2 linked regions of the Homo sapiens genome follow. The protein of the gene in region 2 interacts with the protein of the main gene of each other region in a pairwise test. Each region holds a gene or a part of one and is shown on either strand. Other genes may lie near its edges.

The links.
Region 1: the proteins of ABITRAM (region 2) and PUS10 interact in binary tests that used the Homo sapiens proteins (3 or more experiments, as listed by UniProt).

The regions. Positions count from the first base shown.
Region 1 is NC_000002.12:60,938,036-60,946,176, forward strand, and holds the end of PUS10 (tRNA pseudouridine synthase Pus10), read right to left. Parts: intron 7,074-8,141; coding exon 6,974-7,073; intron 4,399-6,973; coding exon 4,360-4,398; 3' UTR 2,188-4,359; downstream 1-2,187. UniProt on the Homo sapiens protein: Protein with different functions depending on its subcellular location: involved in miRNA processing in the nucleus and acts as a tRNA pseudouridylate synthase in the cytoplasm.
Region 2 is NC_000009.12:108,936,179-108,942,841, reverse strand, and holds the end of ABITRAM (protein Abitram), read right to left. Parts: intron 6,535-6,663; coding exon 6,405-6,534; intron 3,647-6,404; coding exon 3,570-3,646; intron 3,458-3,569; coding exon 3,388-3,457; intron 3,294-3,387; coding exon 3,156-3,293; 3' UTR 1,888-3,155; downstream 1-1,887. Other genes in the region: CTNNAL1 (alpha-catulin), read left to right, coding at 8-73. UniProt on the Homo sapiens protein: Actin-binding protein that regulates actin polymerization, filopodia dynamics and increases the branching of proximal dendrites of developing neurons.

The sequences.
Region 1 (8,141 bases), on a different chromosome or scaffold from region 2:
GGCTTCTTTCCTGGGCTGCAGTGTGGAGCCTGAGGAGAATGTCTGAGGGCAGCAGGGAGGGGACTGTGAATTGAGGCAGCAATAGATTGGTTATTTTTGAGGTTATTTTTTCTTTCTTTTGTGTGTGTGTGTGTGTGTGTGTGTGTGCCAAAGATTTACTTGTTCATTTCTTGCATTTGAAGTACTCTTCAATGACATCCTTGGCCTGAGACTCCTTGCCATAGTTCGTAACTACTATACAACTTCAACCAACCACTTTACACGGTTTCCCCTCTCTGTCAGTTTTACAGAGGCCTACCGATTCCCCTAGTTTCTGGTCATCAACCTTAATTAGGTTGATTTGGTGTTCAGCACAAAGGGCCTCCACCAACTTGACATACATAGGCTCATCACAGTTGGATGCAAGCACACACAGCACACAAAGATGGGCTTGGCACTTGTCTGAGGCTTTGGCAGCTTTGCAAATTTCATATGCTAGGCCATCATGGATGAGGGCGGTCTTCAGCACCTCCTGTAAAACAGTATTAATGTCCATTACACCTCCAGCAGCACTGCCTTCCTCGGCCATGGCAGTGGGTTACGAGTGAAGCCGGATCTTGAATGCACCCGAGACTCCGCCTCTATACAATTCAGTGGCAGCAGGGAAAGAGCAGGAGCCAGATTTCTTATAGTCAGAGAATTACAAATTTGGAAAGGGTGAAAACTAGAATAAGGTTGGAATTGGAAGTACTGGTATAAACTCCTACAGCTTTCGGTATGTGTAGATACAGAGATGTATAGGTGTGTGTGTATGAGTGGGGTGTGTGTGTGTGTGCATGCACATGCATTCATGTTTGTTCCCTAGCTCTGTTCCATGAGAGGGCTTGGGAACAGCAATGGCACCAAACAATGAGCATACCTACTGCCCAGATCTTGGTTTCTAAATACCATTTTCTGCTAAAAGAGACCAGATCTTAGAGAAAAAGCACCTTGCAGAGTTAGTGCAGAGGAAATACAAAGATGAGCATGGAATGTCTTTTTGTATTAGAAAGTAAGAACATGCTCCAAGAATGATGGGGACATACCAAAGGACACAGAAGCCAGCTTGAAGGGGTCGCCACTGGCCAAACGAACAAATTACAACTTCTCAAATAAAATAAGCCACAAGTCCACATGATATAAATCAATGAATAAATTGGAGAGAAGGGAAAGCTCTACCTTTTAGGGTAATGCCAACCAACAAATGTAAAAGGAATGATGGAATTAGAAAATCTGTATTTGGCAATCATTGTGGTACTGATTGATTCAGGTGAACATCTTCAATGGATGCTAAAACTAGTGAGTGAAAGTTGGATGATCTCTCTACAAGATACTTATTAACTACAAGGGGCAAAAAGAATAACCATAAAAGTGGAGAAGCCTCGTGATAATACCTAATCAATTGACCAAAGCCCCAGCCAGCAACTGGACAAATCAAAACTGTGTGACACCTGATAAGATGCAAGAAGACAATCTCTCTTTTGTGGTGTTCTTGCCAAAAAGGTACAATCTGAATCTAATAAAAAGGAAACATCAGGCAAACCCAAATTGAGGAACAGTCTACAAAATAACTGACCTGAAGTGTTCAAAAATGTTAAAGTAATTAAAGTCAAGAAAGACAAACTTCTTTTAAGAGTGGTGGAGACTAAAGAGACGTAACAAAATGCAATGTGAGCACTTGACTATGAAGGACACTGATGGGACAACTGGCAACTTGAACGGGGTCTGTGGGTTAGATGGTAATATACCAGTGTTAATTTCCTGGTTTTGATCACTGTGTTGTGGTTAAGTAAAAGAATGTCCTTGTTTGTAGAAATTACACACTGAAGCCTTTAAGATCATGAGACAGCACTGGCTCCATGGTTCAGGGAAAAAGGTTCTTTGTACTTTAACTTTTCCTGTAAGTTTGGAATTATTTCAAAATTTAAAAATTCAAAATAGAATCATAAAAGTAATATTTTTCATAATAAACAAGGGTAGCCTTTGTTAAAAAATCAGAAAAGCTGATATCAAAGTTCATTCTCTTATGTGGACTTAAAAATCAAAGAATAATTAGCTCCAAAAGAAAAGATTTGCCAAGTAAGATGTTTTTCTCTTACAAAATGGAAATTTAACTTCTAAATTTACTTCACATAACTTGCAAATGTAACCGGTTTTCTTACTTGGACATTTTTCATTTTACCAACTTTATTTTCTTTTGACTTTTCCAGGTATTCAGAGTTGATGTTTTTCCTAAAATAAACCACAGACTATATTTGGGACTATATAAGAGATACTAAGAAGTACAAAGGGCTCTTTCTCTTAAGTGTTATGAAAAAGACTTTGAATTTAAATAAAGCTTACAAAGAAATCATAAAACTAATTTTAAAATGCTTTTATGTAGGCAAAAGGGAAACTATAGTACTCTCACTACTTAATATTTCCAGTTCTGCCTAAAACAAAGACATACATTAATTTTTAACAATCTTTGTCTCAAAATTCTAGGAACATTTGGAAGAAGTATTTAAAGCTAATGCTTACTCTTTGCGTGAAATTTTATATAATCTCAGGAATAGAAATTTAAGAAATAGAAATCTTCTCATTTCAGTTTGCTAAGCACATTCTTCATTCTTACATATTACAGGTCCACTAGATTCAAAGGTAAGCCAAAAATACCATGCAAAAGACTGCCTCCTAAATTATTTAAATCTCTTTTGTAGCAAAATTTTCCCAGAAACTGAGGAACATCCACACAGAAATTCTTACCTTTTTATCAAAAGTTTGTTATCCTTTTCTCATTTTCTGGGCCTTTCAATGCATTGGCATTGACAAGAGTGAAAAAATTATTTGCTGTTATTTGCATATCAAACACATGGTTTCAACGTGGTATGAAACTATGTTGGTTCCAACGTGGCTGACTCCTTTGTGTCCATTAAAACCATTTTCCTCATATCTAAAGTGAATCTTGGTATCTGTGATTTATGTTTAATATAGAGATGGGAAATGGTTAGTAATCTAATACTAGTCAAGTCACATGTATTCTTAAAAAAAGCTCAAATAGTTGAATTAGGGTGATGGAAATTATACTCAAATCTGAAATTGTAATGAGGCTCCTTTCTGAAACTTAAATGACCCATTCATTTTTTTTAGGTTTAGCTTAATGTTTTTCCTCTTCATAATACCAACTGAGGTTTAACTTAATAACAAATGGTAACTATATAAGATTGTATTAAATAGTCTTGGGCTATTTTTTGGTAAGCTCTTTGATTTGGTAACTACATTCCAAAAGTTAATTATCAGTTACATGAGTTTAAATGGCATCCATAGCTGCCCCTTCACACAAACAGGTGCTCAGTAATAGGGCTTATTAGAAAGACCCTAGAAACCAAGAAACTTCAGTTCTAGTCCTCAATATAGAAGTAGCTAACAATTTTGGATAAGTCATTTAACTTCTAGTCTTTGGTTTCCATATTTATAAAATGGAGACAATATCCTATCTACTTTAATAAGGTATTATTAAAATGTTTATAATTGGATAATATATTGAAGCATTCTGAAATAATACCAGTTCGTCTTTGTTTAGCAATCTCAATTTTTCAAATTCTTAACCCTGGGATTGAAGTTATTAAAGGCACTTGTTTCTCCTTATTTAAAAGATTTATGAAAGGCTCCTACCATGGCATGCCTTGGCTCCTACGGTTTTACTTTCCCTCCACAGGAAACCTATATTGACAATTTTAGATTGTCAAAATTCTTTCTTAATGAAAGTATTAATGAGAATTATTTCATTATTCATAGTTTGGTTAAGATTTATGACAAATCACAGCCAAAAGAACTTCATTGGTAATAGCTTGTTTGAGGCTTCCTGGGGAAAATAATGATGTCAGATTTGCATTTGCAATCTTAGACTATTATAGGATATTATGCTGCATAAATCTAGATATAACTTTTATTCAGATAATTTACAAAAATTAGAACATGATTTTAAAGGTGGTATATCTCTTGTGGAGGGAAATCTTGCTGAAATTACAGCTTCTTAGGTTAACAGAGAATGTGTCCTGTTTGTGCACCTCTCTAAATGAAAGAATTAAGGAGAATTATTTCATTATTCATAGTTTGGTTTGTGGGGGTGAAAGAGGGAATGAGAAAAATCCTAAGACATCCTTGGAACAATTTAACACAAAATATACACATATATAGATCCTGAGATGTTACAACAAATTAACAATTATATAGATCAACATGATCCAAATAGTTTTCAAGACACCGTTATGGTGGGTAAACAGCCATTTTACGGCATGTGCTCCATGGATGTCCACATCATGCCAGGAAAACCATACTCTTTGTCTCCAAATTTGAAAGCTAGTCATCCAGAGCAGGTGGCCAGTCAACATCTACAGACTAGAAGGGAGAAAAGAAGTCATTAAAACAGATATTACTGTTGTGGTAAGCATTTGCTGGTAATGCTGTATAAATTTAATAGTTTTAATATAGTGCAACAGAAGAAACTGCATTTGAAGAAAAGAGCTATTGAATACCATAAATTAACCCTCAAGTCTGTTCTAGGTATTCTTGGGCCTGAGGTCTTCTGAATTAATTGAGTAGCAGTATTTGGCTACTCAGTTGGTTATTAACTGTGCTTTTTGACTGATAAGAGAATACATTTAAATTTTTTAAATGGTATTTATGGGGCCAGGTGTGGTGGCTCACACCTTTAATCCCAGCACTTTGGGAGGCCGATCAATTATATAGATCAACATGATCAAGGTGGGCAGACCACTCAAAGTCAAGAGTTCAAGACCAGCCTGGCCAACATGGCAAAACCCCGTCTCCACTAAAAATGCAAAATTTAGCCAAGCATGGTGGCACACGCCTGTAGTCCTAGCTACTCAGGAAGCTGAGGCAGGAGAACAGCTTGAGCCCAGGAGGCAGAGGTTGCAGTGAGCCGAAATCACGCCACAGCACTCCAGCCTGGGTGACAGAATGAGACCCTATCTATCTCAGAAAAAAAAAAAAAAAAAAAAGTATTTATGGGTAAAAGTAGCAAACAAATTCAAGTGACCACCAATTTTCCCTCAGAAGTCTCAGAAACTTTTATTCTTCTGATCATTTTTATTCTCTCATCTTGCATTTAACAAATATTCAAGTAGTCTATAAGCCTATAGTCTTGTTGTAACACAGCAACAAAATGTGAAATAAATGATTATGAAAGATGACCTGGAACCAGAAAAGGATTAAGGATCTTTGTGCTTCAGTTCTGTAGAATTTCTGTTTCTTTAAAATCCAGTTCATCTATCTCTACTTACCTTTATTTTGTTCTTCTAGGACAAAACCTTGATCTTTGAGTCAGAATGAAATTACAGTAAACAGACTATTTGTCTCCACATAAACACATACCAGGTCTATCAAAGGCTAGGGGATCTACTTTAAGAGAAAGTTAAAAAAAAAAAAAAACCCACCGTATCTATCTGTGGCTTTTATTGACATTTAAAGTTTAAAACATAAAATTATTTACTGAAAATTTTTTCATTAATCCATGAGTCACTTCACGTACTGGCTTCAAAAAAAATTTATTAGAAAAGCCTAAATAGCTATGTGTGTGTGTGTCTTTTACAAATCTCAAGAAGATATTTTTGTTCTGTTTCAGAATATAGCCATATACCAAACACCCAAATGTAAATTAATGAGTGTTTTCTCAAGCTGAAAATAAAACATGACTGATCACAATCTTGTGTGTGTGTGTGTGTGTGTGTGTGTGTGTGGAGGGGAGGCAAGTTGTAGTGCTTAAAAAGCTCCACAAGTGATTCCAGTGGGCAGTCAGTGTTGAGAAACACTGGCCTGTGAGTCTTTGACACTCCTAACTGTTCTGAGAATTAAAGTAAAAAAAGATTAATGCAAGCCTGGGCAACACGGTGAGACCCCATCTCAACAACAACAACAACAAAAAAACGCCAGGCATAGTGGCTCATGCCTGTGGTCCCAGCTACTCGGGAGACTGAGGCAGGGGATCGCTTGAGCCCGAGAGGTCAGGGTTGCAGTGACCCGTGATCGCACCACTGCACTCCAGCCTGGGTGACAGTGCAAGACCCTGTCTCAAAAAAAAAAAAAGATGATGAGTAGAGATTTTCTTTAACAGAAGGTTTTCTTCCTCCAAATGATAGTTTCACTGAAGAGGCTCCCTGCAACCTTGAGGGCACGATCACTGGCTGTACTGCAGGAGCTAATCTAATCCCAGAGCACTTGAGAGAATTGCTGGTAAGGAAGTAATACTCCAGTGATCATTTGATTACCATAGATGTTTTCACATTGGGCAACTATGCCCACTTCTTTCTATAACTTTGATATTATTCCCAAGTACAAATCCCCAAGTCCTAAGATTCTGGGGAGAGGAGCGGGGGAGGTACTCTATTCCTAGTCAGATTTTCATGAAGAAACACCACTCGTGACTCAACACCTATTGATACTCAAATGAAATATTTATGGAGACTTGCCCGACAGAACCATTCTTACAATTACTTTAGAATTTAACCTTGTTTCAATTCAGACTGTAAGAGCAGAGAACTTGGACCACATCACAGGGGTCCTTATAGAACTGCTTTTATGAAGAACCATTGGCTCACCTCACTTTCTACCCTTGTGAATCCATGTTTCTGAATATGCTGCTTTAAAGTCTTTATAAAACGCAACAGGTATGGAAATGACTATTTCCGTGCTTGGTTTAAGGGTTTAGATTTGATACTACATGTAAAGCACAGTTAATAAATTAGCTATATATTTTCAAGGAACATAAATGAGACCTCATATTAAAAAAAAAAATCCGAAGACAGTCCCTCCCTTCAATACAATGTTACTGTGAGATTTTCACCATTCTCAAATACCTATGGAGGTGGGTGATACTAAAATGGCTTAATGCCAAAGAGCATAACTTTGGTTGAATTCAATTTGCCAATGTGCATTCCACAACAAAATGGTTTACCTCAACATCCAGCTCCAGAATGTCTGCAGTCACATTCATCAGGGACCCAATGTTTGGCTTGGTTCTCCCGAAGTCTCCATGTACAAACTCTTTAATGTAGCTGGGGTTTGTTTAAGGAAAAAATGAAGACAGCATGCTGTACCAACTATTTGGTAAGATTTGACAGGCAAAAATAATAATAAGAGCAGAAATGTTACAAAAGAAAGGTTACTTCTGAGCTCTGACTTGTGTGTCTTAAAAAATAAGCTTTGGCAATGTGGTCCCTAGTAGCCTGGCAGCCAACATCAGAGCCTGGGAAATGTGTTTACATCAAACTTACCAAAAATCATTACTTTCTTTTTTCTTTATAGCTCATCTCCAAGTGCCAAGGTTTGGATGTGGATTTTAAAAATTAACCATAGCTCAATGCTTTTATTAAAAAACAACTTTGCCACAATTTCTATGTTATTATCTTGTTAGTCCCATTTTTTTAATAATGGCAACTGTCACCTGCCAGATGGTAGGTTTCCACAGAGCCACACAGAGAGTGATCTCAATGATGGCATTCCTTGTAACATGACCCAGAGGCAATAGGGTGGAAGGAATAATGAGACTATTAGTTTAGTCTTAATGATGGCTCTTCGGAAGGATTACCAAAGACCTACCGTCTAGTTTGCTAACATGGTTAGCAAAAGAACTAAGTTAATTCTCTCTCTCTTTCTTAAAGGGGCAACTTTGTATTTCTCTCAAAATTGTATTTCAAATTTTGAAATCAATAACTAATTCTAGAATTTGTTTTTAAGATTAACATTCCTTACATAGGACTGTACTGCAGCTTTGACAATATTTATCTAAAAGATTTGTTTTTGCCAGAATTTGGTAAAAATGCAGCATTATGTTTTGTTCTACAAACCAGCATTTAGTAGAAAATAATTAATGGAACTTGAATAGAGAAATAAATTTGTTTCCAGATGATGAAAAATCTATATTATAATATGCTGATATTATGTCCTCACTTTCTGAACGTTTTACTCACTCTACCTTTGCCAAATGTTTTGACTAAAGCATAAGACATATAATTATCTAGTAACTGTGTTTTTTGGTAAACTCACAACTACCCAACAATTATTATCCATTTTCTCTCATTTTCTTTAAAGAATCCCCTTCTGCGTAGCAATGATGAGGAGAG
Region 2 (6,663 bases):
TTTCCAGCTTCAGATGGAAAATAACGGATGGGTCTCAGTTACAAATAAGGACACTATGGATAGTAAAACTTGAGAAGCTTTTGGGGTCAGATCTCTGGAACATCATGTGATGAAGCTGACATTTTTAAAAATCAAATGATCCTTTATCTTTTCAGAAATTCATCAATTTTATAAAGAAAACAATATTGAAATTTTGCTCTATTTTCTGATCATGAAACTGATTGTAAAGCTTTTTGACAACTAATAAATGTCTTGGTAATTGCTAGATTCTAATTGTAGTGTGATTTTTAAAATAGAACATTGCACTAATGTTCTTTAAAAGTCAAACCAAATATCCCAACTGTCTCAAGGACAATTTAATCCACAAGAAGCTATTTTGAATATGTGCTTAGCTTTGGCATATTTTACCTTAACTGTTTTCTTTATCATCTAGATCACTAATGTCAGCAGCAAACATACAGTAGTCTGGGTGAATGCAGGGTTTTCCTTAAACCTGTGGACTCTTCAATCCCTCTGTTTACCAAGTGTGACAAAAATCCCCTTGATGACCCTGTCCCAGATTGTCCATGCCAGCAGCAAGTTTGTTCCCTAATAAGCATTTTGTACAGCAAGGGTGGGTCTGCTGTGCTGTGTATGTCCCTCACCTACTCCCAAAAGTAAGGTAATGGAACTCCACAGAATCCTGGAACAACTCCTGGAGAGTATGAGATGGGTTTTTGGTTCTAGTTCTAGCATAGCTGGCCAGTCTGCCCTGAATATTAGCTGGGATTCTAAGCCTATCTTATAGACTTAAAAGATATTTTGAACTTTCTCAGTATTGATTGATGGAATGGAAGACAAAGACAGAATAAGGAAGCCAAGAATCTATTTAAATTCTGAATATCACACATTTGAAATGTTCACTATAAAACAAAACAAAAAACATCTTTCTTTAGTCTTTTTAATTTAGGAGTTTAAAGCTTTTCTTGTTTTTGTGGGTGGGGTCATGATTGAAGGATCTGGTTTATAGGTTTTCTCCTTATAATATAGTATGGCCAACTTTGTGTTAGACTTCAGTCGTAGTATTTGTATCTTAATGCTTTGACATTCATTTTGAAATCTAACAGGGTATGTCAGTTATCAAATGGCAGTAGATAATATAAGCTTATCTGATGATCTTTATCTGGGTCAGCCACCACAATCAGTATTCACAAAAGATCCGGAAGAACCACAGTAATGCCAATTGACCACAGCTAGTCAATATTTTATTGAGGAAAATTTTCACTGTAGTCCTTCGGGAGAAAATGTGATGCACTCAGCTCTGTTAATAACCTTTTTAAAATCTTTCCTTAAACAGTCAAAATCATTAAGCATGATTTTTATTCTCTGAAACCAAAGTACTCTTTTAAATTACAATAGAAATAATGGGAGAATGATGTGAGGTAATGTTACATGTAAAATGTTATACACAATTCTTTTACTACGTTTACTGTCATAGTTTTATGACGCCTTCAAGAGTCATTGTGCTACTTAAAGTGAGGATCTGCTGGTTTGTTTATATTTTCAGCTAATAGCACCATCGTGGAGGTGTTTATCCACTTACTACATGTATCATGTCTGGGGGGTATATTTAGGGGGATAGTCATGCTGGCACTCAGATTACAAGTTTTTCCTATGAACCAAAATGTTGTTTTATTTACAAAATAAGTAAGTATTATTTTGTAAATAATTAAAACTTAAAAATTCCAACCCCCACTTGTACTTTCATTAGATAATATTTTTGCATACCTGAAAAAATACTGTTCTCTAGTGAAAGAAAGAGCAAGTGGGGGTTGGGAAGGGGTAACTTATGACTTCAACAGCATAAGAGGATAGATAACCAATGGAATTAATACATCGAATGATTTCTTCTGTATAAAAGTATATTTTATTTAAAAACAGTGATATTGACATGTATGTTATAGCCCTTACAGAAAAATAACACGTTTTATAGTCCTTTTATTTGAAATTCAGTGTAAATCACTCTTAAACTATAAATTCACAGTTGTTGGAGGTTTTTTTTTACTTTAAATGATGTGAAAGCATTTGTTCCATTCAAAGGCCCCTATGCCTTTGAATGACATATTCTCAGTAACTTCTTTGCCAGTAACTAGAGTATGTGAGACTGAGTAACTATAATGTGCATATTTCAAGAATTAGCTTCCCGCTGCATTATAACACATTTCCTAGGAAAGCCTTTGTATTTTTCATAGCCTTTTCACATATCCCTCATTTAAGAAGTCACAGTGTTGCAGTTTTACTTTGTTTCAGAGGGGAAGGCCATCTTGTTGGCATAAGGGGGACAGAAGATATAATATACTCTACACTCCGGCCTCTTCCCTACAACCTAAAAGGGAGAGGAGTTGAGGCAGATGGGCTAGGACTAGGCTTTTTGGTAGGCACATTATAGAAGACTGGGTAAGAAAGGTGGGTTAGGTTTTTTTAAACTTCAAACTGTTAGGAAAACGAGGCAAAAGCAATAACCATACCATATGTTCAAACAGAAGTAGGTTAAAATGTAGTAGTTATCCCTTGGTTTACATAGGGGATTGGTTCCAGGAACTTCCACATATACCCAAATCCATACGTGAGAACTCAAGTCCTGCAGTTGGCCCTTTGGAACCTGAGTATATGAACCTGCTCTATAAGTGGGTTTCGTGTTTGGTTAATGATATATTTTTGACTCGTTTATAGTTGAAAATAGTCCATGCATAAGTGGACCCTTGCAGTTCAAACCTATGTTGCTCAAGGGTCAAATGTATTTACTTCTGGATTATGGGATGATGGGTAAATTATTTTTACTTGGCTACTTAAAACTCTTCTGTATTTTCTAAATCTTCTTCAAAGAGCTTTGTTTGTTTTTAATCAGAAAAACATGCCTTGCATGCCAGTTGTTAGAGAGATGCAAGAGAACAGTGTGAGTACATGGGCAGGCCAGATCTGGCAGGCTGTAGACAAATGGGAACCAAGGCTCATTATGAAGACAGAGAGGGAAAACTAAGTGAAGCACTAGGCCTCCCCTGCATATGGCTGGCTGTTAGGTATGCTTTACATATACTGGTTCTTCTCCTTTAGTACCCTGATGGTTTAGGCCAGGTAACAAGAATCCCACTTTGCTTTTTGTTCCATGTCAATCCTCATGACGTAGCTGTTGTGGCATTAATGCGTTTCACCATGACTTCTTCATATTGTTTTTGTGTCAGTAACCCTTCTGTTATGCTTTTACTTTCTTCAAATTTGGGTAACACAACTGCAATGTAGCCTTCAGTAGATGGCTGGAAAGGAAAGAACATTTAGTACTGTCAAACGATGAAAAAAAAACCAATAAAAGGTATGTGGATGAGATCATATTTTTTCTCTCTCTTTTACCTTTTCTTGAAGAATAGATGGCTTATGGAGGATGTTTTCATTCACTTCCATCAAACGTCCTCTAACACAACTATTAAAAAAATTTAAGATTTCAGCATGTTTACTTAGTTAAAAAAAATTGTTTCTAAGAAAAAAAATTACCTCCCTTTGGTCTCCTAAATGGTGGCTAAAAAGTTACTCACCTAGACACAGTATATTCTTCACCATCTGAGCAGTAAATCTTACAGAGAGGTGCAAGCTCTGTTAGAAACTGTGCCCCCTGTGTAATGAGACGGAAGAAGTAATCAGTTGATGGACATTTCCACTTTCCTTTGAGAAGTAGCCCTTAGGTGTATAACAGGATGTATTCCTGGAACTGGTGTTTTAAATCAGTTACTTCAGTATATAAAAACCATTCATTAATTTCAGAACCTATATGAATATAAGTACCTACTGTGTGCCAGGTGCCATCCTAGGTCTAGGGAAAAAAGCTAAGACACATGATAAATGGGAATTTACAGACTGATAATATATTTTATCAACTGTAAATGAAAAAGCTACATATAACCAGGTATAAAGATTTCAAAAGTGTGGGAAAATCCATCAACAAGAAACAATATAAAATTCAACATGACACAGTATGACAGCAATATTGTATAAAGTTAGTTTCATTAAGATTTCTACCTCATTTTAATATTAGAACTTAATAGATAAAGGAACTTATTTACCAGGGTCAATCACTAAGACTTTTTGAAGAAGGGATATTGTTCTTTCCCCCCCCCCCCTTTGTAATTCCCCAGTGTGTTAGTAAGGGATATTTTTTCTAGTTAAGAAAAACAAAAACAAAAACATGCACTTTGAGGAAAATGTGGAAAACAAAAGTTTTAAGCAGCAAAATAAAAATAATTGACCCATGAGTCAATACTACATTTTGATGTGTATGTATTTGAATGTCATGGCATGGTTATTGTTTCATGTACTCCACTAGATGGATATACCTGGGGAGGCTCTCACAAGTATCTACAGGGAGGCTCATGAGAGCCAGTGCAGGCATGTTTCATGTGTTGCCCTCTTTTCTCCCATGAATTTTTCCTGTAGTGGACATAGGCATTTCAGGTTAAGATGCTATTCTTTATGACCCCTTTATTTACCACTCAAAACATTTTTAGATGGCATTCAGATATTACTATATTGGCTTCACTCCTCCGCACGTGGGTTCTTCATTTTAAAATACTAGAGTCATTGTGACTTTCTGCTTTTGGAAGGAAGGGGAAGGCTTGTGTTAAAAGAGCAGACACAAAAGAGCTAGGTCTGTGCCAAAACAGCAGAAATGTTTTGATGCCTTTTTGTCACCTCCTTTGGGAGAATGATTGGCAGTTCTGAGATCCAGTGAAAACTTACTGTAGTGGGTTCAATATGCAGGTCCCTCTCTGTTCTTCACTTGTAACAGGAGTGTTACTTTTTTTTTTTTTTTTTTTTGAGACAGGGTCTTGTTCTGTCATCCAGGCTGGAGTGCAGTGCTGCCATCATGGCTCACTGCAGCCTTGACTCCTGTGCTCAAGCAATCCTCTTACCTCAGCCTCCTGGGTAACTGGGACTATAGGCACATGCCACCATGCCCAGCTAATTAAAAAAAAATTTTTTTTTTTTGGTAGAAATGAGGTCTTGTTATGTTGCCTAGGTTTGTCACAAATTCCTGGCCTCAAGTGATCTTCCCGCCTCGGCTTCCCAAAGTGCTGGGATTACAGGCATGAGCAACTGTACCTGCCTTAAGTGTTACTATTTTGGACAGAGATTTATCATTGAAACTTCAGAAGTCTTAAGTGTTATTGTAACTTGTAGACTATCGTTTAAGAGAGGTGCATGCTTTTCTAAGTCCACTAGTTTCTTGAGTGAGGAAAAATCAGTAATTGTAAAGCACAATAAATCAGTAATTATTAGGGGACTTCAGGCCTACAAAGGGGGGTTTGAATAAGGGTCTCCTAGAATAGTGAGAGCAATTAGCAGAAACTCTTAGTATGAACTCAGTAAATGAACGACTTAAATCATCCACAGAAACTTTCCCAACCAGTGGGTTTGTTAAGACATTTTAACATGTCACTAAATTCTCCTTGGCATGATACTCTTTTAATAATCTGTCCATTTTGCCTAGAGTTACAGAGGGTAGAGATAGCATTCTATATAACCGAGTGTTGTGTGCAGGTACAGGGGGTGGGTACATGAGTATTACATTGACAATGCTTTAGGAATGGAAAAACAGTAAGGAGCAAATATATTTTCTCGTATTCATGTTTTTGTTTTTGTTTTTTTGAGACGGAGTCTTGGTCTTGCTCTGCCGCTCAGGCTGGAGTGCAGTGGTGCGATCTCAGCTCACTGCAACCTCCGCCTCCCAGGTTCAAGCCATTCTCCTGCCTCAGCCTCCCGAGTGGCTGGGATTACAGGTGCCCACTACTGTGCCTGGCTAATTTTTGTATTTTTATAGAGATGGGTTTTCACCCCGTTGGCCAGGCTAGTCTCAAACTCCTGACCTCATGATCCACCCACCTTGGTCTCCCAAAATGCTGAGATTATAGGCGTGAGCCATTGTGACCGGCCCATGTTTTTCTTTTTTTTTTTCTAACTCCCTTGGGAATTTTTTTTCTGTTTAATTTACATGTGGAAATATATGGTAAAGAAGAGTTAGTCACCTAAATTTTACAGAACTCGACATACTAGTTTAATACAACTAGAAGGGACAAAATATCTTGTTATATTGCTATTAGAGTTCTCCTTTCAAAGGCCTGCCTTCCCCCTCCTCCATCCTGGGCATTATAGGGATAGTAGCACAGAACCTAATATAACAGATACTACACCTCCTGAGATACCTAATTTGGGGGAGCTGAGAATTTCTTTAGGTGAAAGTATACCTAAAATTAGCACCTCAAACTGCTAGAGAAGTATGCTAAGCATATGCTACTGGATTCTAAGGTTCATTGGATCTGTCATTACCATGAATATAGAGGATGTAAGTAGATAATCACAGAATTACAGGAACATACCCGCTTAAATTTCCCAGAGACCTTGTTCTGAAGTCTGCTACAGTTGGTACTGATCTGATAGGAAATGCTTTTAATTGTTTTTCCACTTTGAAGAACTGGATGAGATTCTGCCAATGTGATGACACATATTCTACAAGGAGAAAAAGTTGATCCTGTGTGATTGCTTGGAATAATTTTTCCTCCCATAACTCCTATTGGAACAAGAATGTATGAACTGGTATTTGTTTAGTCAAACTATCATCTTCCCCCTTTTTCCTTT